Homo sapiens: one gene and its partners. The protein of the gene in region 4 binds, or shares a complex with, the protein of the main gene of each other region. Each region holds a gene or a part of one and is shown on either strand. Other genes may lie near its edges. The genes, in order: ZMAT2, SF3B3, IK and PRPF38A.

Region 1 (7,593 bases), on a different chromosome or scaffold from region 4:
GAACTGTGGGAGAAGTCTGGATTTGGCCTAATACTGTTTATGCAAGTCCCAAACTTGGGTGACTCCAACCCTTAAGCCTGCAACTGTAGGACTTTCCTAGTAAAGCTGTTGTATTTCCTATATGTCTGTACTCTTCCTGTGAAATTTCCATCCTTTTTGTGTGTCAGGAAAGTAGGTACTGCCATTGTTTTGAGTGGAAGGGCATTGACAAGCACTTGGGTCACTGACATTGAGTTCTCAGGTAAATGACCGGCGGATTGTGGATGGGATGTTTGCTGTCTGTGGTGTTCCTGAAAGCAAGTTCCGTGCCATCTGCTCCTCCATAGATAAACTAGACAAGGTAACAAAGAAGACATACTTCAGTAGACCCTATCTAGCTTCTGCCCTGCCCTCAAATCCATACCACTAGTGAAAAATAAGGAGATTGTGGCTGGAAGTGGGCTATTTTGGGGTGGAAGGTAAGGAGGCATACTCTGAAGGAAGATCTGAGTCATGCTATACAGTGGGGATTGTGACTGGATTTCTTAAGCTGTCTCTGACTTTGCTGAGTATACAGTTAGCTACTTGTGATGTATATACTGAATGGAAGTTGAGTTGTCCTTTTTCAGTTTGAGAAAGAAAGATCTTGGGGCTGGGCTAATGTTTGGGTGTTTATGCAGATGGCTTGGAAAGATGTGAGACATGAGATGGTGGTGAAGAAAGGCCTGGCTCCTGAGGTGGCTGATCGAATTGGGGACTATGTCCAGTGTCATGGTAAGAACCAGGGTTTTCAGAGCTGTGATAGAACCAGGCTGAAGGTGACATGTGCTCAAATTCTACCTCTGAAACAACTCTTTTCTGTAGATATGCTAAGCTCCAGGGCCTGTCCTGAATTTAATTTCTCTTTTACTTATTGTAACGACTTTGTGTCTTCAGATGGCAAAGCTAGAGGCAAAGGAGGAGGGTCTTGTCATGTGAGACTGGGATCTTTTTTTTTTTTTTTTTTTTTTAAAGAAAATGAGGAAGACTAGCTAGAGCACATTAGGGATAATTTTGAATGAAACACATGTGAGTGAACAGCAGAGACTTTATTTCTCTCCAGGTGGGGTATCCCTAGTAGAGCAAATGTTTCAGGATCCCAGACTATCCCAGAACAAGCAGGCCCTGGAGGGCCTGGGAGACCTAAAGCTGCTATTTGAATACCTGACTTTATTTGGAATTGCTGATAAGGTAAGCTGAATTGCAAATGGACCTCCTGCTGAGCTCTAGGGCTCTCAGGGTCCCGAGTCTAGTTTGGGACTGACTGTAATCTTGTCCCCACAGATCTCCTTTGACCTCAGCCTGGCTCGGGGCCTAGACTACTATACAGGAGTGATCTATGAAGCAGTGCTGCTGCAGACCCCAACTCAGGCTGGGGAGGAGCCCCTGAATGTGGGCAGTGTGGCTGCTGGTGGGCGCTATGATGGGCTGGTGGGCATGTTTGACCCCAAGGGCCACAAGGTGCCATGTGTGGGACTCAGCATTGGGGTTGAGCGAATCTTCTACATTGTGGAGCAGAGGATGAAGGTAGGTCCTAGATAGGTGTGAGGTGGGGCTGGAGACCTAAAAACCCTCCTGTTTCTGGAGGTGTAGTTGGAGTGGTTTTCTGATGATTCTTTTTGTCTTGATTTTTGGAATTGCTGGTGGAAAGGAGGTTTTTATTAGTTTTACTTTCTTCTCTCTTATTAGACCAAAGGTGAGAAGGTGCGGACTACAGAGACTCAAGTGTTTGTGGCCACACCACAGAAGAACTTTCTCCAAGAACGGTTGAAGCTTATTGCAGAGCTTTGGGATTCTGGAATCAAGGTATGGTGGAGCTGATATCTGAGCCATCTGGGTATGTGTGGAATTTAGGACCCAGGGCTATATCTATCTTATGTCTGGGGTGGAACTCAAAACCTTTTTAGTCTGCTAGCTACTACTGGCTACTAGATTGGCTTTTTAGGGTAGGCGGACTAGCCACTTATCTCTGGCTTTCTTGGATATCCATGTTCCTGAGGTTTGTTGCTGTGTTCACTTCTAAGTCCCTTACTCTGTCTTGATCCTTTTCAGGCAGAGATGCTATACAAGAACAACCCCAAACTATTAACCCAGCTGCACTATTGTGAGAGCACAGGCATTCCACTGGTGGTCATTATTGGTGAGCAAGAACTGAAAGAAGGGGTCATCAAGATCCGTTCAGTGGCCAGCAGAGAGGAGGTGAGTGGCGGCAGCAGAAATAGAAGGGACGAAGTATTTCTGCCTTTCCCAGATTCTGTAAGAAATATGCATCTTCTGGCTGAGAAATTATCTTCATGGTTAATAGTGGTAGAGATGAACAAACACTCACTCAAGATGACCATTGCTGCCTGTGAGTATTGACTGGGTGGCCAGAAGAAAGACAAATGAAATCCGAATGGGTATTTTGAGACTAATCAACATAATAGACATAGATCAGGTGTTTGAATCCCTTTCATCTTGAGGGTATACATTCTTCAGGTCAACCCACACTACTCCTTTCTGGTTGTATAAGTAATGGGAGAAGATGCAGAGTAAAACAAATCTGGAAAAACAGTGGCTAAGGAGTTAGTATCACTTTCTAGTTTATCACATGAGGATTCTCTTATGTTTCAGGTGGCCATTAAACGGGAAAATTTTGTGGCTGAAATTCAGAAGCGACTGTCTGAGTCTTGATCCTTGCCTGATTCCCATCTGCTGCTCTTTGTAGAAAAGGTTTCCTCTAGAACTGAATTCCTCTGGAATTGAGTGATGGACTTCACAACAACTAGCCAGGAAGGGTGACAAGTACCTTCTGCCTCCTCCATTCTTCCTGGGTGCAGAACTGTAGAAGACCCTGAGGACTCCTGGGCTAGTGTGAGCAGCTATTCTGCATGGGTGCAGATGGCTGGATGTGAAAGAGACATGCTCTAGCTGCAGAGGCAAATTTGAAGTGCCACGGAACGTTGTCAAGAGGTAGTGAGATTGTTGCTGTGAGCAAGGCTCTGGGAGAGTCACCTCAGGCTCAGGATTCTGAACCATTGAGATCAGAAACCAGATACTTAGCCTTCTACTGTAGCTACGGAACCAGATTCTGGTGAATTTGTCCACAATCAGCCATTGGCCTGTCTGGGGAGTTTTTGGAAGACAGCAAAGAGGGGCAATGGCTGCTTTCAGCTTTGAGGACAGATGCTATCCTAAGGGCATGGCAGTACCCATGTTGATTTGACATCTCTCTAGCCCATCCATTGCTTACAGTAGAAGAGTGGGGCTGTATGCTTGATAATCTTGAACATTGAACTTAATAGATGACTTGACAAGGTAGAGATCTGATATTTTGAGATTTTGGAGACCATTTCCTGTGCCAGAATCACTGCTCTATTCCATACCGTGCCATGGAGGCTGTTTTAGAAGTGGTTGGATAACATGTTAAATAAAATATTAAGTGTAGTAGTTTGGGTAATTTGTTATTGTTATCAAGGGCTTTGTTTGCATAGACCATAGAAAATGCTTGAGTGTACATTGGAGAATTCTGTGAGGTAGAAGTAACCTCCCTGGGATGATGCTTCTGTATTCAGTGATGAGCAGCCACAGTTTCTCCCTCTTTCCCTGTCTCCTCAAGAGGTAGTTTTTTTGTTTGTTTGTTTTTAGACGGAGTCTTGCTCTGTCACCCAGGCTAGAGTGCAGTGGCGTGATCTCGGCTCACTGCAACCTCCGCCTCTCAGGTTCAAGAGATTCTCCTGCTTCAGCCTCCCGAGTAGCCAGCTAATTTTTGTATTTTTAGTAGAGACAGGGTTTCACCATCTTGGCCAGGCTGGTCTCAAACTCCTGACCTCATAATCCACCCACCTCAGCCTCCCAAAGTGCTGGGATTACAGGCATGAGCCACTGTGCCCGGCCAAGAGGTAGTTTTGTTGCTAAAAATCAACATATAGTGAGCCGGTATGCCACAGTGCTTCACTCTAGAGTGTTGTTGATGACTGGCCTTTCCAAATCCAATTATGCTGATTAAATTATGTTCTACTATAAAGTTCCCCAGATGATGGAAAAATAAGTGAACCAAAGGGTGGTAGCATTGCTTCAAGGAAAAGAGCCCAAGTGCAAAACATGCTTTTTATATGTGCGTCGGGAAGGGTGCCTCTGTTGCAAACGTTTCAGTGTAGTTTAGGGTCATATCCCTAGTGCATGCAGGTGAATGAGAGGCATCTAGACCCCCTAATGGCGCTTCGGCCTTAAAAAAGGTTTAGAAATTCTTGGCAGTGGACGCAAAGTTGCTAGACTAGATCAGAGACCACTGTTTTGCGAACCTCAGTTTCCTTGTTTGTAAAATAGTTGAACTAAATCTTGACCCTTTAATGCTTGTTTTGAAATCCAAGGCAAAAAACAATTGCAAGCGCCCTTACTTCCGTGTTGCTTCATACTCCTCTTGCGCCTGCGCTGTCTCCTTGGAGCAGAGGCGGGGCCAACAAGCCTGTTTTAGAAACCCTCCAGTCCTTAGCTCGTTTAGAACACAAGACTCCAAGCTTATTGGAGGGCTATCTTGCCTTACGGCTCCAAGCCGCTTTTTACGGCGTTTTTCAGCTCGCCATTCACTTCGCTGTGAAGATGGCGTCGGGCAGCGGGGTAGGTGTTGTGTCTGAGGAGGAGGTTTTGCGGGGTGGGGAATGGTTTTTCAGACCTGAATAGAGACAAACTCCTGCACCCGACTGGCTTCCCGATATCTCCTCGAGATCCCAGGGTTCAGGTTCAAGAACTCCCCAGTAATAGGCCTTGGCAGAGGGTCAGTAGAATCGCGGAGGTTTCTCGGGTTGGGGTCTTGAGGCTACCTCAGTCTTCTCGTACAGTCCAAAGAGGCTTTGCTTTCAAAACGTCCTGTAGACACCTGGACCGCGAGGGCGCGGTTCCCTGCTTCTCTAGGGGCCCAGACACGGCGACGGATCTTGACGCTTTTTCCTCCCCACAGACAAAAAACTTGGACTTTCGCCGAAAGTGGGACAAAGATGAATATGAGAAACTCGCCGAGAAGAGGCTCACGGAAGAGAGAGAAAAGAAAGATGGTGGGTGCTAACTACATCAAGGGCTAAGGGTATCACAGAGGCGATGCGATGATGGAGAGCGGGTGGGAGTTGAAGTGCGCTGCCTTCCCACGCGGTGTAAGCTCTGGCAGAGTGCTGCTTCCCTGGGCCTAGGTTTCTGCATTTACAAAATGAGAGCGAGGAGGTGGGATGAAGTAAGTAGTTTTGAGATGCTCTTCAGCTCTATTTCACTCTGCTTCCTTGCCCACCCTTTGCTTGGCTCGTTTAATGCTTTCCTGAAGTACAGAGAAGATAACGGCATCCTTAGTAGTGACAGAGAAGTTAAGTAGAGTATTTTGCTGCTGTGCATTACCGCTATCAGTGACCCCCCTCTTTCCCTTGAAATTTCTTAAGGGAGAGAACATTCCTGGCCCAATCAAGACCCTCCCATATAGTCTGAGAAAAGCCGGGGAACTTTGCAGGATCTGTGATTGTTTCAGCTAGAGCTTAGTAGTGCTGTTTCTCTGTGCCTTGTACATCAGGGAGTTGGTGCTTCTCTCCTGTTTAAGAGATTGCATAAAGAAATGTTTTATTTTGTCATCTGTTTCAAACGTGTACATTCTTCTTTCCCTTTACCTCCAGGCCACCTTGCACTCACTAACTCTTTCATTTTTTATGTAACATGTAAAATAAATAGTGCTTGACATGTAACAGGCATTTCCTAGATGTTGGTCCCCTTTTATAAATTTGCCCAGCTCTCAGAAGGTTCCTTTCCGTTATGCCTAGGGTATCTGCCTGAAAGCATTCTTGAATGTCCTTGCTCCCGTTTTGAAAAAGTTGCTTCTAGTAATTCTTCAGAAATTCTCCCCCACAATTCAGTTAATCAATGAATATAAAACATACTGTTTTTAGATTTGCTGGCTTTAAAGTGGAGAAAAGCTGTAGAGTTGAGGATTGCTTATGATTTCTTCCTGTGTTGAGATTCTCCCCAGCTGCTACTTTAAGTGTCTGTTGTGTCCTTTCAGGAATGATTTTGAAATGAGTAAGACCTGAATTTTGGATTTCATGCATTTTTTTTCCTTTCTGGTTGAGGAACTATAATATTGAAGGGACTTCCTTCCCCATTATGTTTCAGGAAAACCAGTGCAGCCTGTCAAGCGAGAGCTTTTACGGCATAGGGACTACAAGGTGGACTTGGAATCCAAGCTTGGGAAGACAATTGTCATTACCAAGACAACCCCTCAATCTGAGATGGGAGGGTGAGTTGCTTATCATTTTTCCTCTGCAGCCAAGAATGCATCTAATAAGCCACCTATTTTGGTTTTAGGAAGTGTTAAGGAAGGTCCTTGGCCCCAGGATTACGTCCTTCTTGCCTGTAATTCTATCTTTATATTTGTTTTTCTGTGTCTCCCAAGGTCTCAAGTTGACATGATAGTGTCTCTAGGAGTGGTCACTCAGTGGGTTTCTTCATGTTATTAGCATTGGCTGGGCACAGTGGCTCACGCCTGTATTCCCAGCACTTTGGGAGGCCAAGGCAGGAGGATTGCTTGAGCCCAGGAATTCAAGACCAGCCTGGGTAACACAGTGAGACCCTGTCTCAATTAAAAAAACCAAAACAAACAAAAATCATACTATGAGCACTACAGCTACTACTCAATATAGTTTTTAAATTTTTTATTGCCATTGTACTTGTTATCAATTCTGATTTACTATTAATATTTTAAAAGGGATTATTTGATCTGTCAGAAGAAGAAATGAAGGAAAGGACTACTGAGGAGATTTCTAGGAGAGAAATTAGGTGGAGCTAGAATAGAGCCTAGGAGTTGTTAATGGTGAAGAAGAGGGGTTTGAGGTTCCAGACTAGCTGCAAAGGCTGTAGTTGTTATGGATGCCTGATTGTACACCTTCTTCCAAGACTATAACCTATAGGAAGAAGGGTCCTACAAGAGCTTGTCACCCTTTTGCCCCCCACTGCTTCTCTGTCCAGTTAGGTTTTCTGGCAGGAGAGCAACACAGATAGCAATGAGTGACACTTCTCTGAGCTGCTTAGTAAACCCACTGTTGTCCATTCCTGTCTGTATTAGTTATCTATTGTTATGTAAATTAACAAATTAACCTAAAGCTTAGCAGCATAAACTACACCACTCACAGTTTCTTTGGGTAAGGAATCTGGGAGTGGCTTACCTAGGTGGTTCTGGCTCAGGGTCTTCATGAAGCTGCAATCAAGGAGTTGGCAAGGTAGGTCTGCATTCATATGAATCTTAAGTGGGGCTGGAAGATCTGCTTCCAAGCTCTCTCACATGCCTGTGGTTTGGAAGCCTAAGTTCTTTGCCCCATAGACCTTTCTTTTTTCTTTTTCTTTTTTCTTTTCTTTTTTTTTTTTTTTCTGAGACAGAGTTTCACTCTTCTTGCCCAGGATGAAATGCAATGGTATGATCTCGGCTCACCACAGCCTCGCCTCCTGGGTTCAAGCGATTCTCCTGCCTCAGCCTCCCAAGTAGCTGGGATTACAGGCATGCACCACCTGATTTTTTTGTATTTTTAGTAGAGACGGGGTTTCTCCGTGTTGGTCAGGCTAGTCTCG
Region 2 (7,021 bases), on a different chromosome or scaffold from region 4:
AGCAGGAAGCCTTTCTGCCAAGGGCTCAGACTGGTTCTGCCAGAGTGTTGGAGGAGGCTGTGAAGAGGTGGCAGAGAGCCGACTTCACCATGAAGCTTGTGTGTTGCAATTGAAACCTTCATTTGGCTCAGCATTTTAGTACCTGAGAGCCAAGTTTCGGTGTTTTAGCTTCTGTTAAGATTTTCAAGGCCAAGCTTTAATACAGTCCAATCTTCCTGAGATTTCAGATTTTTGTTTTCTAGCAAAAGGGTATTGCCATTGGATTAGTTTTAGAGCAAGTATTGGATCACTGCATTGATAACCTTTCTTACTCTGTCTTGTCATTTGCGGTATTAAATCTTAAATGTTAACCTATCTATAAGTTATTTAGACCTTTTTCAAGTTGACAAAACTGTTCTTCCTGGTAATATTGATGTGAAGTTTGAGCACTGTATGTAATATTCTTTGCAAGATGGAAAAGAACCTAAAATAATTCAGTCAGTTTGGCTTCCTCAGGTTTTGGGGGGCTTTTAAAATTAAGCCACCAAAGTTGTTCACATCCTGGTTATAACTATTGGCTGTTCATAATGAAACTATGGCCTCTTGATAGATTAATCACTATTGCTTATCAAATGAGCTCCCAAAATTTCTTTGCAACAACTTTCAGGGTCTTTTCATGGTCATTGTCCTTTTTCTTTCCGTCATCTTTGTATTTATCTTCTGCTCCAGCAGAATTGATCTCCCTGCACTGCTCTACATCACTTAATATTTTTTTAATCTCTACCTGTGCTAGAATGCTTCACCCACATACATACCTGCCTGTCAGTGTTCCCCTTGTCTTTTAAGCCAGCCTTGTTGTAGCCTCATCTGTGGCCCCTACCTCCTGAATTGCTATAGATTTAGACAATCGCTACAGATTTTTAGGCTTTCCTAGCAGCAGAACTTACTTCCCCCCAAAACTAAATCAGGGAAGGTGACTTATGAGACATAAAAGCAGAGTTCTTGGCAGGCAGTTTATTTTTTTATTTAATTATTTTTATTTTTAAGTTTTTTTTTTGAGACAAGGTCTTACTCTGTTGTACAGGTTGGAGTGCAGTGGTGTGATCATGGCTCACTGCAGCCCCAACTTCCTGGGCTCAAGCTATTTCTGCCTCAACCTCCCAAGTACCTGGTGGGACTGTAGGCGCATGCCATCATGCCTGGCTAATTTTTGTGTTCTATTTTATAGAGACAGGATTTCACCTTGGTGCCCAGGCTGGTCTTGAGCTCCTGGGCTCAAGAGATTCTCCCACCTCAGCCTCCCAAGTAGCTGGGACTACAGGCGTGCGCCACCATACATGGCTTTTTTTTTGGTATTTTCAACAGAGTTGGTGTTTCACCATGTTACCCAGGCTTGTCTTGAACTCCTAGCCTTAGGTGATCTGCCTGCTTTGGCCTCCCAAAGTGCTGAGATTACAGGCGTGAGCCACCACACGCAGCCCCTATCTTTTTTAATGTAGAGAATAAACTACAAATAAAACTCCATCATTAGAGATCGGGTAACTATACTTTTCAGAGTACCTGGGTTCTGCTCATTTTGCACATAGTTTGGCTTATGTGTACATCTCTGTCCCATTTGACAGAAATTTGTAGGTCCCTTATTTGCTGTCTCTTGCATTGTCATAGTTTTCCTGAACTGAGGTGATTTTTGTTCACAAAGGTATCCACTTTATTTTATGAAGCACAGTCACTACAAATACCATATATGTTTAGGTAATTGCAGTGTTTCACAACAAATTTGGGATTGGGCTCTTTATTATCATTGGAGTGATTAAAAAAAAACTTTTGACAATCGTTTGTGTTTCATTGGTAGGAACTAGAACTGCTGTGAATTGTGGTAGGGTGTTGCCAAATGGGAAGGCCCTTCCTGGATCTCTGTGTCTGCATCGCAGAGTTTTCTAGAGTAGGAGGCTGTTGTTTAATGTTGCCTAATGCCAACGTTAGAGCTCCAGGGATTGACGTGTTTGCTGACTGCTCAAAGTCTATTTCAACACCAGTTTCTGGGTCCGAGTGAGTATTAAATAACTGCCTTGCTTTTTTGTCATAGGATTTTGGCATTAGAGAAGCTCGGTGCTGTCTTCAATCAAGTAGCCTTCCCACTGCAGTACACACCCAGGAAATTTGTCATCCACCCTGAGAGTAACAACCTTATTATCATTGAAACGGACCACAATGCCTACACTGAGGCCACGAAAGCTCAGAGAAAGCAGCAGATGGCAGAGGTAATGAGACTAACGTTCAGGGGTTCTATTAAAAGATGTGTGAAATTATGTTGAAAAGTTTAAACTGCCCGGCACTTTGGGAGGCTGAGGTGGGAGGATTGCTTGAGGCCACTAGTTCGAGACCAGCCTGGGCAACATAGCAAAACTGCACCTCTATTAAAAATTTTAAAAGATAGCCTGGTGTGTTGGTGCACTCCTGTAGTCCCAGCTACTTGGGAGGCTGAGGCAGGAGGATCACTTGAGCCCAGGAGTTCAAGACTGCAGTGAGCCATGATCATGCCACTGCATACCAGTGGCACTCTGGACACGAGACTCTATCAAAAGTTTAAACTCCTGTAATTGTTAGTATATTCTTTGTTTTTAAAGATCTAGGCTTTTTTCAGCTTTTTTAAGCAGAGGCCTTTGCCCCAAAGTACTTCATTTTAGAGCCTTTCTTGTAACCCAGGACTATACTCTGACCTCCATTTATTCACAATTAAGTTCCCTCTCTGAAACAGAATTCTCCCGTCCTTGAGCTTCCAAAATAGACTGTATTTCCTTTATTTGGGCCCAAAAGAGACAGCTTTCATGTTCTCCACAACACCAGCTCTTTCTAGAACTCATTGCCTAGCAGAAACCAAATAGCTACAACCACGTAGAACTGTATCCATCCTTAAAGAGTGGAGACAGAGTAGTTTTAGTAAGGGAAATCAGATGGGTTGGATAGAAAAGTGGAGTTTCCGTTGTCATTTTTCTCAAGCCACTAGTCCAATATTTGTCACAGCTATTGTTATTTTTGGTGTTTTCTACTAATATGTAACCAGCAATGTCTGGATTTCCCTTTCTGATCTTCTGTCTTCCCTAGTCTGTACACCTCTCCCTTTAATAGTCATGTCGGGAAATCCTGGCTGGGATGGCTGACTTTGCTGCTTTATGTATTGAGAACCCCCTGGAGTGTTCTTGCTACCTATCCTCTTCTCAGCCAGCCCCTACCTCTGAGCACGCCAACTCAGTTACTCGTTTTTTTGGGTTTAGGAAATGGTGGAAGCAGCAGGGGAGGATGAGCGGGAGCTGGCCGCAGAGATGGCAGCAGCATTCCTCAATGAAAACCTCCCTGAATCCATCTTTGGAGCTCCCAAGGCTGGCAATGGGCAGTGGGCCTCTGTGATCCGAGTGATGAATCCCATTCAAGGGAACACACTGGACCTTGTCCAGCTGGAACAGAATGAGGCAGCTTTTAGGTAAGCAGCCCAGGACAGTCCAGGGTTTGGCAGGCTGGAACAGGAGCTCTCTGAGTTTTGACTAAGGCCTTACTCTTGCTTCTTATTCTGTGTGTAGTGTGGCTGTGTGCAGGTTTTCCAACACTGGTGAAGACTGGTATGTGCTGGTGGGTGTGGCCAAGGACCTGATACTAAACCCCCGATCTGTGGCAGGGGGCTTCGTCTATACTTACAAGCTTGTGAACAATGGGGAAAAACTGGAGTTTTTGCACAAGGTAGGAATCTGCCAGTGGTTCTCCTAGATTTTAAGTCCCATTGAATTCTCTCACTTTTGCTTATGTTATGGATCAGGTCTTTTGGGGACCAGCTCCTTGATTCCAATCTCTCTCTTACCAGCACATGGAAAATGCTGGGGCCTTCTAGCTGCAGTGATGTTCTTGTGCCTGTGCATTCCACAGGAAGGCTTTGTGCTAACCATCCATAATGGGGAGATAGATGCACATTCAATTGGTCTCTTTCTTACTGTTTTAATAAGCAGGCAACAATTTGTGACCAAAATTCAGCAGTTTAAATAATTAATATTCTGGCTGGGCGCAGTGGCTCATGCCTGTAATCCCAGCACTTTGGGAGGCCGAGGCAGGCAGATCACCTGAGGTCAGGAGTTCGAGACCAGCCCGGCCAACATGGTGAAAGCCTGTCTCTACTAAAAATACAAAAATCAGCCAGGCATGGCGGCACGCACCTGTAATCCCAGCTGCTCGGGAGGCTAAGACAGGAGAATCGCTTGAACCCGGGAGGCGGAGGTTGCAGTGAGCCGAGATTGCGCCATTGCACTCTAGCCTGGGTGACAAGAGTGAGACTGTCAAAAAAAAAAAAAAGATTTAATATTCTTTTCCACCTGCATTCTCTGGGAAGTTACTGTTTAATGGGTACAGAGTTTCAGTTTGGGAAGATGAAAAAAATTCTGGAGGTGATAGTTACACAACAGTAAATGTGCTTAATGCCACTGAAGTGTATACTTAAAAATGACTGGCTGGGCATGGTGTCTCACGCCTGTAATCCCAGCACTTTGGAAGGCCGAGGTGGGCGGGTCACCTGAGCTCAGGAGTTCAAAACCAGTCTGGTCAACGTGGTGAAATCCCATCTCTATTAAAAATAAAAAATCAGCCAAGCATGGTGGTGGGCGCCTGTAACCCTAGCTATTCCAGAGGCTAAGGCAGGAGAATCACTTGAACCCAGGAGGCAGAGGTTGCAGTGAGCCGAGATTGCGCCACTGCACTCCAGCGTGGGTGACAGAGCGAGACTCTGTCTCAAAAAAAAGAAAAGGATTAAGATGGTAAACTTTATGTTATGACTATTTTACCATAATTTTTAAAATAAAAAGAATATTCTCTTCTCCACAATGACAGCATGTGGATTCCTTCAACCCTACCATAAGGGGAGTATCCTCTAAGAAATACTTCATAGACCCTTTTGCATATTAAATTTGTCTCTCCTTTACAACTGAGATGTCACTAGGCTGGGTGCAGTGGCTCACGCTTGTAATCCCAGCATTTTGGGAGTCTGAGTCGAGCAGGTCACTTGAGCCCAAGAGTTTGAGACCAGCCTGGGCAATGTGGTGAAACTCAGTTTCTACGAAAAATACAGATAATTAGTCAGGCTTGATGGCACATGCCTGTAGTCCCAGCTACTCGGGAGTCTGAGGTGGGAGGATCACCTGAGCCCAGGAAGTCCAGGCTATAGTGAGCCATGATTGCGCCTGCCACAGCCCTTCAGCCTGAGCAGTAGTGAGACCCTGTCTCAAAAAAAAAAAAAAAAGTCACTTTTCACTAGCATTTCTTTCCTGTCCCTCCACAAATTACAGTCACTTGGCTACTAAGGCTTCACTGTTGAAATAACACCAGTTAAACAGAGCACAAGCTCTGGACAGCAGTCGTCTGGTACCAGAACTTCTTGTCAGTTACAGCATTGATCCCTCTACTGAGTGAATGCAGCATGCGGAACTTGTTCACCCCAACACCCAGATTCATTAGCAAAATAAGCTCACTGGTGTGTTTCTTAATGATAGGCTCCTGTGGAAGTAGGCATTTCTGGGCAGAGAGGTGAGGCCTGTGTCTGGCTGGCATTTATAATAGCTGTATTACCTGCTTTTCCTCTATAGACTCCTGTGGAAGAGGTCCCTGCTGCTATTGCCCCATTCCAGGGGAGGGTGTTGATTGGTGTGGGGAAGCTGTTGCGTGTCTATGACCTGGGAAAGAAGAAGTTACTCCGAAAATGTGAGAATAAGGTAAGTGTGCTGGCATTGGTGCTGAGATCTAGCTCATGTGTCAAGGGTGGGGGCATTGGTGGGGTGGTGGGCATTGAGTTTTAAAATCTTATCTTTATTAGGACTTGTTGTGTTACCCCAATTCCAGCTTCAGAATTATGCCCTTGTTTTTTTGTTTTTTGGTTTTTGAGACGGAGTCTCGCCCTGTTGCCCAGGCTGGAGTGCAGTGGCGCAATCTCGGCTCACTGCAACCTCCGCCTCCTGGGTTCAAGCGATTCTCCTGCCTCAGCCTCCCAAGTAGCTGGGATTACAGATGCGCGCCACCACGCCTGGCAAATTTTTTGTATCTTTAGTAGAGACAGGGTTTTACCATGTTGGCCAGGCTAGTCTCTTAACTCCTGATCTCATGATCTACCCGCCTTAGCCTCCCAAAGTCCTGGGTTTACAGGCGTGAGCCACCGCACCGGCCCTTGAGTTTTGAGAGGAGCAGGAGTAGAGGGATCTCATTTCTTGACTTACCAAACAAGAACCAGCTTTCTATCTTGCTAGCTTCTATAAGGAAAGTAAATGTGAGAGTTAGGCATATATTTGCACTATATTAAAAGCTATTTGGCTCTTTTTTCCCACCTAGAATTCATTGCTAACTGCTGGTTTTTGGTATTTGCTGTTCTGCTGACCCTACGTATGTCATACGGAAAGCTGGGCTTTCTTTGGGTTCTGAACCCCAAGATTACACCCACCATCACTATTGTCTTTGTTTTTCCCAGCATATTGCCAATTATATCTCTGGGATCCAGACTATCGGACATAGGGTAATTGTATCTGATGTCCAAGAAAGTTTCATCTGGGTTCGCTACAAGCGTAATGAAAACCAGCTTATCATCTTTGCTGATGATACCTACCCCCGATGGGTCACTACAGCCAGCCTCCTGGACTATGACACTGTGGCTGGGGCAGACAAGTTTGGCAACATATGTGTGGTGAGTTGATGTTGTTAACTTGGGTTACAGTGATGTGTAGGAAAGCTGGCTCAGTTTCTTGTGGGTAAAGCCAAGGAGGAATCAAATCTGAGAAGTAAAAATGGATATAAAATTCCATCCTACTAAAGCTAACTCTACAAGCAATCTGTTCTTTAAGCCTTCTTACTAGTCTTTTGGATTTTTCTCTGTGGTTTATCTCCCTCCTCCCTATTGAACGTGATTTAATGATAGGTTTAGTTTGAGCTAATGGCTAATATTTCTTTTTACATTTTATAAGAACTTTGGAATGTCTGTTATCTATGTTGTGTGGTTTTGGTTTTACCCTTAGCTGTGTTA
Region 3 (7,182 bases), on a different chromosome or scaffold from region 4:
GGGAGGCTGACGCAGGCGGATCACCCGAGGTCAGGAGTTCAAGACCAGCATGGCCAACATGGTGATATCCCATCTCTACTAAAAATACAAAAAAATTAGCTGGGCGTTGTGGTGGGCGCCTGTAATCCTAGCTACTCAGGAGGCTGAGGCAGGAAAATCGCTTGAACCTGGGAGGCGGAGTTTGCAGTGAGCCGAGATCTAGGTATTACACTCCAGCCTGGGCAAAAAGAGCAAGACTCTGTCTCAAAAAAATAAAAAAAAGAAAAGAATCAGTCTGAAACAGACTAAGCGTTTATTAGCTGGAGACTGACTAAACTATGATGGTGTTTCCCAAAGAGGGAAAGACAGCACTAATGGTACAAGAGATTATTTTAATTGGTACACTAACAAAGACTCCTCTCTTGATCAAATTAAAGTCAGACTCCTTTAAAGCTCTCTTCTGACTAGGGCTCTTCCTTGGCCTGCTGACCTCAGTTTTAAAAAGGAATCCTAAGTCAGTTCACAGAAAGTTTTCCCACTCTTGATATCCAATCCAACTTGATATCTAATCAAGTTCCTCTTCTCCCCAAGGAAGACTTTATTGAAGACTACTGTAACAAGAGTCAAGACCATTGTAATAGAGTAGAGAGACTGAACTTAATTCCGAATACAACAGGGACAAGTGAGAATTTATAGAAAATTACTAAAAGCAACTTGGTTAGGTATGGGGGTGGAGCGGTGGTTGATTTCTTTGTTAAAACTGTGCTCAGCAGGCCACGGATGAGTCCTGCTGAAAAATGGGACTCTTTGGGGAACCTGACTAAAGTTTAGCCAAGGAGGGAATGCTTGTCACTGCTCTGAAAGATAATCTCAGAAACACTGAGCAGGGTTTAAAAAGAAGCAAGTTGCAAAAATGATATATACAGCATAATATCATTTAACTCAAATATTTTAAATCACAAAGCAATGTTGTGTTTTCCTCAGATATGCATGTATGTGTATAAATGCATTTAAAAAAGAGTAGGAGGGCCAGGCGCAGTGGCTCACGCCTGTAATCCCAGCACTTTGGGCCGCCGAGACGGGCAGATCATTTGAGGTCAGGAGTTCAAGACCAGCCTGGCCAACATAGCGAAACCCTGTCTCTACTAATACAAAAATTAGCCAAGCATGGTGGGGCATGCCTGTAATCCCAGCTACTGGGGAAACTGAGGCAGAAGAATTGCTTGAGCCCAGGAGGCAAAGGTTGCTGTGAGCAGAAATAATGCCATTGAACTCCAGCCTGGGCAACGGGAGGAAAAGATATGCCAAAAAAGGTAACTGTGGTTACTTCTAAGAAAAGGACTGAGGCTGGGCACGGTGGCTCACGCCTGTAATGCCAGCACTTTAGGAGGCTGAGGCGGGTGGATCACTTCAGGCCAGGAGTTCAAGACCAGCCTGACGAACACAGTGAAACCCTGTCTCTACTAAAAATACAAAAAAAAAAATCAGTCGTGCATGGTGGCACATGCCTGTAGTCCCAGCTACTTGGGAGGCTGAGGCAGGAGAACCGCTTGAACTCAGGAGGCAGAGGTTGCAGTGAGCCAAGATTGCATCACTGCACTCCAGCCTGGGTAACAGTGAGACTCCGTCTCAAAAAAAAAAAAAAAGAAAGAAAAGAAAAGAAAAGAAAAAAAAAAAGAAATGGACTGGAATTGGGGATGTTATCAAAGATGATTTTATCGGGGGCCAGGCACGGTGGCTCACGCCTGTACTCCCACCACTTTGGGAGGCAGAGGCGGGTGGATCACCTGAAGTCGGGATTTCAAGACCAGCCTGATCAACATGGAGAAACCCCATCTCTACTAAAAATACAAAATTAGCCGGGCGTAGTGGAACATGCCTGTAATCCCAGCTACTCGGAAGGCTGAGGCAGGAGAATTGCTTGAACCCGGGAGGCGGAGGTTGTGGTGAGCCGAGATCGCACCACTGCATTCCAGCCTGAGCAACAAGAGCGAAACTCAGTCTCAAAAAAAATAAAAAGATGATTTTACCCTTATTTCCTATGTTTTAATTTGCTATTGGAAGAAGTAATTCCTATATAATGTGTAATTACACAACACGTATAAAAAAAAAAAAAAACTTAACACCTTTCCTGCAGGAATTTCCCTTCTAATACCCTTATGCACTTGGCCTGATCCAGTTAAGGCTCACAGAGATAAAGGGCCAGCGGGTATAATTTTTTACCATCCTTGATGACAAGACATTCAGAATTCTTTCACCATCACCACCACTTTTCTATTCATTGCCCAACTCATTTCCATGGTCCTAGCACAAAATACTCACTGGTGGAAGGAGTGAGGATCATCCACATCGTGGCCATCGGGGGCCAAAGGGTTGGAGAACGGCTCACCTGACAAAAAAAATTGACGTTAATTTAATCAGTCTCTTACGTGTCAGATCCTATGCAAAAATTTGAGATATAGTAGTGAACAATACAGAACAAAAGTTAGAACAGCGACAGTGTCAACACAATGTAATAAGTGCTGAAATAGGAAACTACAAGAAGCTGTGGGAGCACAAAGCAGAGGACCCTAATCCTGCGCTGGAGGATCAGAGAAGACTTCCGGAAGATCACGTCTAAAATACTACGTAAAAGATAAATACGCGCAACCCAGGATTAAGTATGGGGACAGGACTGGGGGAAAGCGATCCACGCACAAAAGCCGCCCATCATCACTTGGAGTAGGAGTGAGGACTGGGGACGGAGTTTGGAGCTGTCGGCCTCACTTAGGACCCTGTGGCTTCTCCGGGCTCAAGCGTCACACATACATACATACACACACACACACACACACACACACACACACACACACCCGGCTTAAGCTCAGAAGCTACAATAATGCGCCAAGTGCCCCAAGTGCCATGGGGAAGAAATAACGGATGGCCTGAGCCTTACTATCTCGCTCCGGCATTTTGTTATCGTTCTTTCGCTGTCACCAACAATCGAGTCTCCAACAGCAACACCGCAGCGACAAGCTCTTTCCCACAGTGCACCTCAGAATCAACCCACACTGCTTTGCGTTCGCAGCCTTTCCGCTTCCTGTTTTTCCCTCCGACCAACCCCGAGCGCAAAGAAATTGACCTCGCAGCGGTCCTACAATACTTTTATATCATTGGCCAAGCTTTACCCCGCCCCTGCCTCATGCAGCCTATGGGCTAGGCTTTAGGGTCCGCGGTTGGTCAGACCGGAGCACTTGGCCTGAAGACCTGGAATTGGCGACTTCGATATTAACAAGGATGGCGGCGGCCGCAGCAAGTCGAGGAGTCGGGGCAAAGCTGGGCCTGCGTGAGATTCGCATCCACTTATGTCAGCGCTCGCCCGGCAGCCAGGGCGTCAGGTGAGGCGCGGCGTGGTGAGGCGGGCGGGCTTCGGGACGCCAGGGTCACGACCTCGACCTCCCTGAAGTTGAGGGAAGCCCCCGCCCACAGCACGCGCGGCGCTCTCTCCGGCCCCGCAGGGACTTCATTGAGAAACGCTACGTGGAGCTGAAGAAGGCGAATCCCGACCTACCCATCCTAATCCGCGAATGCTCCGATGTGCAGCCCAAGCTCTGGGCCCGCTACGGTGAGTGCGGGACGCCAGGGGTCTGGGGCTCCGGTAGGGGAACAAGGGTTTGAGAAGAGAAGGGACCGCCCAAGGTCGTGCAGAAACCCGTGGAGAAACTAGAACTCGGACTTTAGCCTTGCTGTTGATCTTGTTTCCATGAAGAAATTTATATTCGCAGGGTTATATGATGCGTTGTATTCCGGGCAACATAAGTATGCAGGCTGACCGAATCCTGCGTAGGGACCAGGAGCTGACGTTTTTGTAGTTAAGAATGGGCTTCAGACAGGAGAGAAGTTAGTCAATATAGTTTCTCCAAATAACGTGTAGCCAGTGTCAGTCCAGGTAGTGTGTGAGAATCTCAGTAATTTTGCACATAGAGCTGGGCCCTGTGCTGAGTGCTTCCCTGCCTAACTCATTTAATCTTCATTAGTTAGGAGGAAGCGTGTTCTTCTTTTCTCACTGTAGAGATTAGAAAACGGAATCAAAACTTTGTTTTGCACTATTGTTAAACTCTAGCTGCAACTTTAGATGCAGCTAGAGTTTAACAGGATTGAGCCTTTACATTTATTCCCCTTCCTAGAATGCACTTACCCCTCTAAGACTGGCATGGCAATGTATTGCAAAATGAAATTTTCCTATCATGTTGCCTAACACATTGTAGGTATGCAATAAATGTTTATACATACTGAATAACAGGATTTTAATCACAGCTTTTAACTATATGGTGCCCTGGGAATGACGGGAGGAGGTGGAGGAGAGTGACCACCTTAAGCAGATTGGTTCTCAGAGTAGATATCTGTGAGACACAGTAGACATTAGACATGCACTAATAATTGGAGAAGGAAAAAAGCTTCTCCTTCCAAAAGCCAGTAGACTACAGGAGGAGATAGACACGAGTAACTTTAGTGTATTGTGCTGGGTATTATGTTAGATAGCCTATGGGAGCCTAGAGAATGGGTACCCAGCTGGGTGCGGTGGTTCACGCCTGTAATCCCAGCACTTTGGGAGGCTGAAGCAGGTGGATCACCTGAGGTCAGGAGTTCAAGACCAGCCTGGCCAACATGGTAAAACCCCGTCTCTACTAAACATACAAAAATTAGCCGGGTGTGGTGGCGGGCACCTGTAATCCCAGCTACTCAGGAGGCTGAGGCAGGAGAATTGCTTGAACCCAGGAGGTGGAGGTTGCAGTGAGTGGAGATCGTGCCACCACACTCCAGCCTGGGTGACAGAGCGAGACTCCGTCTCAAAAAAAAAAAAAAAAAAAGAGAGAGAATGGGCTCCCAGCTGAGGCTGGACCCATGCAATACATTGCTCACCGTAGTTAATAATAAATGCCTACAGTGCCCCCGAAAGCTTCCCTGAAACAACCCATTGCGGCCATCCAGAATCAGCCAAAATTCTATTTGGACTTGGGCTTCCTAGATGTGTTTGAGACCTATTGTATTAATTCTAGGCATACCAAATGTATTTTGATCATATCTCTTTAATACTCTTCCTGTCTTAACAAGACTAAGATAAAGACAAAGATCTTTTATTTTACTTTGGTAGCCTCCAGGGTGCAGAATAGTTAAAGACACCTCCCTCTCTCTCTTCAGCATTTGGCCAAGAGACGAATGTCCCTTTGAACAACTTCAGTGCTGATCAGGTAACCAGAGCCCTGGAGAACGTTCTAAGTGGTAAAGCCTGAAGCCTCCACTGAGGATTAAGAGCAACAGCCCCAGAGCCTGGGCTCTGCTGGACTTAGTATAATGTGAAAAAAATGTGTTCTCCTATTCCTCATAAAGCTTGTGCTGTAAAATACTTTCTCAGGGTGTTCTTGTCCTCATCTACCCTCTACCCCTTACTGTGCAACCACTGAGGCAAAGTAGCTTAATATAAAAATAAAACTTTATTCTGTCTCATCAAAAGCTACCAGCTGCTGAAGCAAACATGAAGGGTGGCGGGGGGGCAGGGATTCTAGGGCCCCAGAGTAAGTAGACCACACTGAGTCCCTTTTGGTCCTCCTGCCTGGATAGTGCTGAGTGGAAGGGGAGGAGCTGGGACCCAAAGGTCTTGGCTTAGGTGTGGGAGCAGAGAACATGAGACCTCATTATGGTCCTAAATCTCCAAAGGCTCTACTGGACAAACAAGCTTGATGTTAAGAGAGAGGGGAATGAGTGACATTGAGAAACAAGATCACCCTTGAAGAGCTGTCTGCTGGAGAGCATACACACGATCCTGGAGCTGGGCCTCTTCCTGATGCCTTTCCAGGGCTTGCAGCCCTGACTGCTGCAGGAAGACCTGAACAGCCTAGGGGCAGGGAAGAAAATTCAACACACCTGGTCTCTGTGTCCTAAGACTCAATTCCCACAGCCTCATGGGTCAGCCTACTCCAGAGGGTGCATTCCCCAACAAGAGGATGAAGTTTCTGACATGGAACCTATATAGGTTAGCCAGGCCCAGAGAAACAACTATAGTTAGGACTGGATGGGAAGGGAGCCACTGTGTGGCTTCAGAACAGGGGTGACTGAGGATGTGGGCCAGAAACCTATACCTCTGGCTGATACAGGAACAGCAGATGCAGCAGCTCCAAACTCTGGCCTACTACTTCAGTGTCAGAAAAGGCTAGTGTGTGCAGCAAGGCGGGAAGCAGGGGCCCTGGCCACAGCCGCTGGCAGTAAGCAGGACCCTTTTCTGCAACATTGCACAGAACTGTGAGCACCTGCAGATAGACACATATATAGTCTACAAAGAATGAAACACAAAGATCATAACAATAGCTAAAATATATGACATGGTGACCACATGCCCAGGCACCATGCCAAGCTCTTCTACATACATGTTCTCATACTCCTACAACTACCCTATGATGCAAGATTATCCTCAGTTATAAGTGAGGAGACTGAAGCTTAAGGTGGTTAGTTGATTTGTCCAAGGATAAATAATCCAGTTTAAGGGACACACACCTAGATTGGTTGGGCCCTGAGGCCACACACCACCACCTGCTGGCTCTCAACTAAGGGTACATCTGAGGGCTCAGGACTGCTGTCCCATACAATCCGACTACCAGATCTTGGATTCAAGTAACCCCAATACATACCATTACGCTCACCACGTTAGATACTGGCAACAGCTGTAAGAGAGGCTCAATCAGATCCAGGGAGAGCAAGGAGGTACAGAAACTAGGACTGTTTGCTGGAAGAGAAGTACCAGGGTGAAAAACTGCTTTCCCCCACCACCCCTGTCAATACTACCCACCTCAGCCTAGGCCATGAGGAAATATCCCCATTATCCAAATGTCCAGGCCTGGGCAGATTATGGTGCGTACCAGTGAGGTTGTTGAGGAGCCAAAGGCCCTCAGGGAGCAGACTGGGCTGTTTCTGGAAAAAGAACTGCAGAAGGATAAATAAGGCTGCCACAACACGCTCATCTCTGAGCTGCATTTGCCCTCCCACAGTCTCCACTGCTGCCTCAGTTAGCAGGTTGCTTAGACATCGAAGCACGGGGCATGCCAGCTGCAAAGACAAATTGGGGGGTCAGGTGTAAGAAGGAAGAGGTTACCTGCATTCCAGAGTATCAAGAAACATCTCCCAGAATTTCACCTGACATCTTCACCTACCAGCTCCAGTCCTGCATCC
Region 4 (7,558 bases):
CGAAGCCCATGATTCTGATGTGCTGCCTCTACTGGACATTAGTTTGATGAGGTTTTTCTCCATACTTCTAAGTATGTCAAAGAGAAAGTATGTCCAAAATCCTCCTTATCTATGTGCAGTACTCTCCCCTTATCTGCTGAGGGTACGCGCCAAGACCAGTAGATGCTTGAACCTGCAGATGCTGCCACTAACCCTGTATATGCTATGATTTTTCCTACACACACATACTGTACAGCACGGATACACTGGACAAAGGGATGACTCACATTTCAGGTGGGACAGCGTGAGATTTCACCACATTACTCACAATGGCACACAATTTAAAGCTTATGACTTGTTTTTTTCTGTAATTTTCCATTTAATATTTTTGGACTATGGTTGTTGTCAGGTAACTGAAATCGCAGAAGGTGAAACCACGGATAAGGGGGACTATAGTAATATAAAACATCTTTATCCACTCAGTCTATCAGTTCCTTCTCTTGGGCATACAGACTACCACAGGATTACCTAATGACCATGCCCTTCTTCTGTCTCTTGAACGAGGCAGTTTTAGATAGTTTCAAATTGCTATCTTCCTAATCCTCCTTGTGGAGCTGTGCCCCACTCCCACATTTCTGTGCTCTCCTCTTGTTTTGCAGAGGGTTAGAAGGTCAGCAAATCAGCTAAGGCTTTCGATGTGGGCTTGTAGGCTCTGGTTGATGCCACCTTCCCTTTTGTTCCTCCAGCCTAGGGGCAGCCGTGGCTTCCTGCACTTACTCATCTCTGGTAAATGTCACCTTTTCTTCTAGCCTTTCCAACATTAACACACAAGTTCCTCTGGGTAAAATATCTTAAGTGTTTTTGTTTTCCCTGACTGAAACCCCAATTGCTACACCTTCCAAATCCAACTTACCTCTTCACTTGTAACGAAGTAGCACTTGCAAAATATATTACTAACCTTCATGCCAAAACTAAAGGACACATCTCTATGATAGTACAAATTACCTGTTTTTTCCTTCTCCCTTTCCCCCAAATTCATCCATTCTCTCCATCCCCCCCAATTCTGCCTTAATAGCCTTGCTTACTCCCCAAAATAATGAAAAAGTTAAATTATTGAGCCTTCCAGTTCCGTTTTACTCAATACTGCTTTGGTGAGTAAAGAAATTTTTTAGATGGAAGAAGACGCAGCTAGTTCTTACGTGATCCCACCTCAGTCTAATGTGCCCTGCACACTGCTGTGAACAAAAGAATCCACAATCTCCCCACCTCCCAATCATTCATGACAAGGAATGGTTTATTATTCCAGTCCCAAACTCACCATCTTCGAACAACTCAAGCAATTTAGCAACATACGGGTTTTCATCATCATCCCCTTCAATCAACACAAACTGTCCAATCTGGATGTGAATCTCGGTGGAACAACCTTCTGTTTTCACACACATTTCTCTAGGAAGTAACAGAGAAGCACATTAGGAAATAACTTAAAGTGGGTCAAGCTCTTCAGATCCCCTGGGCACAAAGGAGAGGGCTCTCCAATCCTGATTTCTTTCTGCTGACCAACTCTCCTACTGGGAAACCAATTCGCCCAGTTATATTTAAGAATAGGCAAAATGGGTTGAATGAATTGTTTTAGCTGAGTAATGAATCCAAAGGTCTTATTAGGAACCCTAATTCCTCTCAGTTATTGACAAAGAACAACAAATGCTTCCCACAACAAATGTTTCCCAAGGCTGTCAAGCTGCCCAGTAACAATGTCAAATTGTCAGAGATCTCCAGGGCTGGGAAAGACATAGTAAAAACATCTATCATCTCGTTTTCATCAAAAGTTATATAGAACTCACCTTAAATAGACATGACATTATCCTACATACAAAATTTTATGAGCCTGCCATAATTTTGCTCCATCACTAACTGCTATATTTATCCCACCATCTTCTTGCATCAAACAAAACCCTCCTTACAATCAGTTCTAATCTCCTGTTCATTCATGGTCAATCTGTAGTAATTAGAACAGGCTAGATACAAGTTGACTGTTTAGCTTGAGAAGCTGTATTTCCAGGACAACCAAAGGACCCCATCACTCACCTATAGGTTTGGTAGTGCAGTTTTCGATCCAACAAGGGCCTGCCAACCCATGAATAAGTTTTTCTGGTCTTCAGCCTTGTGGGGTAGTGTGCCATGGCTTCTGTGGAAGAGTCCAAACTCTGAGTTACCATGATAAATATTTGGTATTTATCTGATGGATTCTAAGACATAGTCAGTCCCTCCCTTCAAATGAGATCAGACTTATTTTCTGCCCCTGCTACACTCCCATACATTTTAGACTAAGAAAACATTTTATTTGAAGTCATGGTCTACGAAGATTACACACAGGCAATTTAGTATCATCTGTGTCCATCTTGTACTATGCCGTATCTCTTTCCATCCAGGAAAACAGAAAGGTCAATTCCTAAGAAATGAAACTGTAACATTTAGAAATACTAGGAATAAGGCAGAACAATAGGTGTAAAACATCTAACAAAGTGAAATTAAAAGACAGTGATACAGGGGTTGTAAATGTCTTCATGACGCTTATAAAATGCACACAAGGATAAAACAGAAATACAAAGGCTGGGCGCAGTGGCTCACGCCTGTAATCCCAGCATTTTGAGAGGCTGAGGTGGGTGGATCACCTGAGGTCAGGAGTTCGGGACCAGCCTGGCCAACATGGTGAAACCCCGTCTCTACTAAAAATACAAAAATCAGGTGGGCATGGTGGCAGGCAAATCACTTGAACCCGGGAGGTGGAGGCTGCAGTGAGCCGAGATCGCAACACTGCACTCTAGTCTGGGTGACAGAGCAGAACTCTGTCTCAAAATAAAAAAAAGAAAAGTAGATGTTATTATCACTTCAAGGTGATAACTTATCCTATCTTATACAGGATGGCACAGCCTTAACTCAAACCCGGAAAAGCCAGACTGCAATTACTGTGCTCTTAACTACTTCACCTTACAACACACTGTGTGAAACTGGATAATGTTAATATGTAACTGAGAGCTTGCTTTTGGTGTACTTATTACAATAAATCAGGCTTCCCAGCCACTGACTGAACATTGTGGATTGGGCCTCAATTTGCTTACCCACAAAATGGAGAAAATAGAATCTTCCGTTTATTCAACCAATATTTATTAAGTACCCATCGTGTGCCAGGCACTATTTTAGGATAATGGAAGATTAAGTGAAAAAATGCAAAATGGTAAATCCACTTTCCCACTACCTTAATCCCTTGCATTTATTTGTAAGGTACAGTGGTTTTATTTATTAAGTATCATTTGATGAATACTATGGAACTAACATAATTCAAGCAAAATTTTGCATTCAATTTCGGCAGATTCACAAACCTCCTAAAGTCCACATATTGCCCTCCATTAAAGTTAAAAACTGTTGCAAAGGGACTTAAACCATTCTGTCATATTGGAAACTCCTTTGGCATTTCCAGCCCACCTAACACAGCAGAGACGAGGGTACTATTATTCATGTGTTACAGACAACTAGAATCGTATATAATCATTGCAGTTTCACAAATAGATCAGGATAAGAATGCCTTTTCCAACTGTCACAGCAGAAGACTCTTCAATTCCGGGGTTAGAAAAGAGAAGTAGGAAGGGGGCCACCAGACTTCTCTTCTGAAAAGAAGGTGAATGACAGACAGCCCAGCAGTTAGGAGCTCATCTGAAAAAAAGATCTGGGTAGGAGCCCAGACTGCTTAGTCACGAAAAGCGACCTAAGACACGTCCCTCCCTGGGCGCAATTTACGTCCGTAAAATGGGGTAATAACCTCTGCTCCGCCTTCCCTGTAGTGGTTCCTACACTATAGCTCAAAGAACGAAACAAGTAGAGTGCTTTACAAATGCAGATGGAGGGAAAGTCATCACTGAGCATCAGGGTGCGGAGGGCAGGAATGCTCCTGCTTCTAGGCTGTTGGCTTCCGCCTTCCCCCCTGCAAACTCAGTTCCCTGCAGCGCGGGAAGCCTTTTAGGAATCGGAGTGTGGAACAGAGGAACGCTCTTAACAGTTCAGAACAGTGCCTGGCACTGAACAGGCGCTTGGTACATGTCAGCTAAAAGAATCAATGACTGAGTCTACAGAGAACGTCCTCAGTTTCAGAGGTTCCGATGCGCCCTCCCCCGAGTCCCTCGCAGCCCGCTGGACGCCACACTCACCCGGCTCCAAAGCTTCCTCCGGCTAGCCGCAAGCCCTCCGTTTCCTACCGCCTCCACTTCGAGAGCTCCGGGGGATGCGGCACCTCTAACCTGCACCAGCAGGGCTCCTTCTACAACTACGGGCCGAAAGCCAGGACCAAAGCGTGTGTCTCACTAGAAATGAAAAGAAGGTGGAAGGAGAAAAGAAAACTTCGCGCCAATCGGCGTGGCCCCGCCCCCAGACCGTCCCTTCGTTGCGACACCAACTAGCTCGCCCCGCCCACTCCGTACACCTAAGAGGGGCGCATGACGTACATCCGCTAACATGCAGCCGCCATCATTGATTCGATAGGCGACGCGGGGAGCGGAAGCCCTTTACACTACGGTGTTTCCGGCTTCAAGATGGTCGCCTAAGCTGTTTAGTGAAACTTCTTCCACCTTTCTCCATTCCTCTAGGTGCTTTTTCTGAACCTGGATGTGAGGCATTAAAGGATCCGACGGAAATAGAATTGAAGGCATTCTAAAATGGCTAACCGTACAGTGAAGGATGCGCACAGCATCCATGGCACCAACCCTCAATATCTGGTGGAGAAGATCATTCGAACGCGAATCTATGAGTCCAAGTACTGGAAAGAGGAGTGCTTTGGACTTACAGGTAAGTGGAAGCGCGCGGAGCGCCTCTCAGCCCCCTTGTGGCCCATTTCTCCTGACCGAGCGCGGGTAGGACTAGCGACTGGCCTCTGGGGGTGGTACTGGAACGGAGTATGTCGATCATTCAGAAAAATTTTGAGTGCCTGCTAAGTGCCTCGTCTTGTGTTGAGTATTAGAGGCACAGATGAATCTGGTAAGGTCATATTCTGAAGGCTGTCTCAGTTGGGTGTTGTGAGTTATTCCGTATTTAATGATAGCAGGCTGGGTTGCAACAGTGTTAAGCTCAGGGATCCGGATATAACACTTTGACACAATCTGTTGAAGGTCTTTAAGGACCTAACGTTAATATGCCTGAAACCAAATTCATGATCTTACTATTCTTAGATCTGGGCCGGTTCCAGTATTTATAAATATCAGTGCTTCAGAGAAGTCTTCCAGGTAATCTTCCGATTTGAATTGTGGCTTTAAATCCATGTCCTGTGACAATCTGTGGACCTTGAGCAAGTCACTTTACCTTTCTTAGCCCTCATTTTCCTTACCTGGAAATAAGAACATTGCTAGAACTTTCTTCATGACTTGTTAAAAAAGGTTAAGTGAGATAATATGAAAAGCTTAGCAGGGTACCTATTTTATTATCCATTCTCAATGTATATTAGCTGTTGTCGTTACTGTTATTAATACACATTCGTTCTCCTAATATTACACTGTTGATGTATATTTAGGAGAACCAAAGCTTGAACTAACTCCACTCCAACTAGGAAGAGCTTAGCCCTAATATGTTACTGTATTGTTTTTGTTTTTTAGCTGAACTTGTAGTCGATAAAGCCATGGAGTTAAGGTTTGTGGGTGGCGTCTATGGTGGCAACATAAAACCAACACCCTTTCTGTGTTTAACCTTGAAGATGCTTCAAATTCAACCCGAGAAGGATATCATTGTAGAGTTTATCAAAAATGAAGATTTCAAGTGAGTGCAATGTTCACTAGCTAATATAAGAGGTTTAATTTTGGCGGTTTAGAATTGGGCTTTGGTTAAGAGGGGTGTACACAATGTATCTCATTTCTAGAGAGTTCCACTCCAGATTTTTGCTTTTGAGCCCTTGAGTTTGTATTTTTTGTTTGTTTTTTGTTTTGGAAACAGAGTCTCTCTGTGTTGCCCAGGCTGGAGTGCAGTGGTGCGATCTCGGCCCACTGCAACCCCCATTTCCTGGGTTCAAGTGATTCTCCTGTCTCAGCCTCCCGAGTAGCTGGGATTACAGGCATGTGCCATCACGCCTGGCTAATTTTTGTATTTTTAGTAGAGATGGGGTTTCACCATGTTGGCCAGGCTGGTCTCGAACTCCAGACTTCAGGTAATCCCCTCCCCCCCCGGGCCTCCCAGAGTGCTGGGATTACAGGCATGAGCCACCACACCCTGCCAAGTTTGTATTTTATCTGTTCTGATTGTATTAATCTTCTACTTTACTTTCTCAGTTTTGGTAATTTTTCCCTGAAAAAGGATTTCACAGATTCACTAAATACATATTAAGCAAAAGTGAGTGCCTGATATGTTGGTAGGCACTGGACGCTCAGGGGTGAAAATCAAACAACAAAAGGTGGTGGTTAAGAGGTGTAAGATCTGGGTTCACATCCAGATTCTGTTGCCCATTAACTATGACATTGGAGAGGTTACTTAATTTTCTAAACTTTGCTTATCTGTAAAATGGTGACTATAATATAAGAGTGAAAGAACGTAATGCATGCAGATCTCTGAACACAGCACTTGCTGCATGGTAAACACCTAGAAAATGTCAGCTTATTACCGTATTACCGATTCTCGAGGAAATCACAAACAAGTATAGGAGACAGACATAATAGCTTCTTATGTGCCATGCTGTAAGGGCTTTGCATATAATAATTCATTTCACTTTCACAACAACCTTCTAAACTTTTAATCCCTATTCTACAGGAGAGGAAACTGAGGCACAGAGATTAATTAATTTTGCCCAAGTTCAAACAGCTAGTAAGTGGCAAATCTGGCTTCAGAGTTCATATTCTTTGCTACAGTATTCTGCTTCTCGTACAAAGAAACTATGACTTTCAAAAGCCTCCTAGTTACCCAAGAGGAAATTTAAGTAGTTAGATATAGGAAAAAGGGAAGAGGAACAACTCTTTTTTTTGTTTGAGACAGAGTCTCGCTCTGTTGCCCAGGCTGGAGTGCAGTGGCGCAGTCTCGGCTCACTGCAAGCTCGGCCTCCTGGGTTCATGCCATTCTCCTGCCTCAGCCTCCCAAGTAGCTGGGACTACAGGCGCCCACCACTACACCCGGCTAATTTTTTGTATTTTTACTAGAGACGGCATTTCACCGCGTTAGCCAGGATGGTCCCGATCTCCTGACCCGGTGACCCACCTGCCTCGCCTCCCAAAGTGCTGGGATTAGAGGCGTGAGCCACCGCCCCTGGCTGGAACGACTCTAATAAAGCATTAACAGCTAGAAAATACCTAACTTTTGTTAGGCACTTACTGTGTGCTCTGTGCTATACTTAGCACTTTCAATGCATTTCTTGTTTATATACCAAGCCATAAATTAGGTAGCATTATCTCCGTTTTACAAGGATTGAGAAAACACATGATTTGACCAGTAGTGTCACAGACTTAGTAAATTACGGAGTCAGAATTTGAACCCAGATGACTTACTTTTTTCCAAAACCAGCAGTCATGTTTATGTGTACTTGTTCTTGTATTGTTATTAAATATATCTTCTTTCTGTT

What was found.
Region 1: PRPF38A (region 4) and ZMAT2 share a complex: the UniProt entries of both Homo sapiens proteins name them as parts of the spliceosome B complex.
Region 2: PRPF38A (region 4) and SF3B3 share a complex: the UniProt entries of both Homo sapiens proteins name them as parts of the spliceosome B complex.
Region 3: PRPF38A (region 4) and IK share a complex: the UniProt entries of both Homo sapiens proteins name them as parts of the spliceosome B complex.

What each region holds. Positions count from the first base shown.
Region 1 is NC_000005.10:140,695,862-140,703,454, forward strand, and holds the start of ZMAT2 (zinc finger matrin-type protein 2), read left to right. Parts: upstream 1-4,585; 5' UTR 4,586-4,599; coding exon 4,600-4,617; intron 4,618-4,957; coding exon 4,958-5,051; intron 5,052-6,144; coding exon 6,145-6,268; intron 6,269-7,593. Other genes in the region: HARS2 (histidine--tRNA ligase, mitochondrial isoform 4 precursor), read left to right, coding at 242-340, 660-753, 1,082-1,209, 1,303-1,545, 1,708-1,824, 2,071-2,217, 2,632-2,691. UniProt on the Homo sapiens protein: Involved in pre-mRNA splicing as a component of the spliceosome.
Region 2 is NC_000016.10:70,561,811-70,568,831, forward strand, and holds part of SF3B3 (splicing factor 3B subunit 3), read left to right. Parts: intron 1-2,065; coding exon 2,066-2,240; intron 2,241-3,254; coding exon 3,255-3,460; intron 3,461-3,557; coding exon 3,558-3,714; intron 3,715-5,600; coding exon 5,601-5,726; intron 5,727-6,472; coding exon 6,473-6,685; intron 6,686-7,021. UniProt on the Homo sapiens protein: Component of the 17S U2 SnRNP complex of the spliceosome, a large ribonucleoprotein complex that removes introns from transcribed pre-mRNAs.
Region 3 is NC_000005.10:140,643,657-140,650,838, reverse strand, and holds the start of IK (protein Red), read right to left. Parts: upstream 3,011-7,182; 5' UTR 2,931-3,010; coding exon 2,915-2,930; exon of another isoform or gene 2,913-2,914; intron 2,369-2,912; coding exon 2,302-2,368; intron 1-2,301. Other genes in the region: NDUFA2 (NADH dehydrogenase [ubiquinone] 1 alpha subcomplex subunit 2), read left to right, coding at 3,256-3,356, 3,477-3,583, 5,161-5,252; TMCO6 (transmembrane and coiled-coil domain-containing protein 6), read right to left, coding at 5,741-5,854, 6,099-6,266, 6,645-6,739, 6,873-7,059, 7,164-7,182. UniProt on the Homo sapiens protein: Involved in pre-mRNA splicing as a component of the spliceosome. Auxiliary spliceosomal protein that regulates selection of alternative splice sites in a small set of target pre-mRNA species. Required for normal mitotic cell cycle progression.
Region 4 is NC_000001.11:52,400,065-52,407,622, forward strand, and holds the start of PRPF38A (pre-mRNA-splicing factor 38A), read left to right. Parts: upstream 1-4,537; 5' UTR 4,538-4,685; coding exon 4,686-4,815; intron 4,816-5,615; coding exon 5,616-5,775; intron 5,776-7,558. Other genes in the region: ORC1 (origin recognition complex subunit 1), read right to left, coding at 1,298-1,425, 2,065-2,159. UniProt on the Homo sapiens protein: Involved in pre-mRNA splicing as a component of the spliceosome.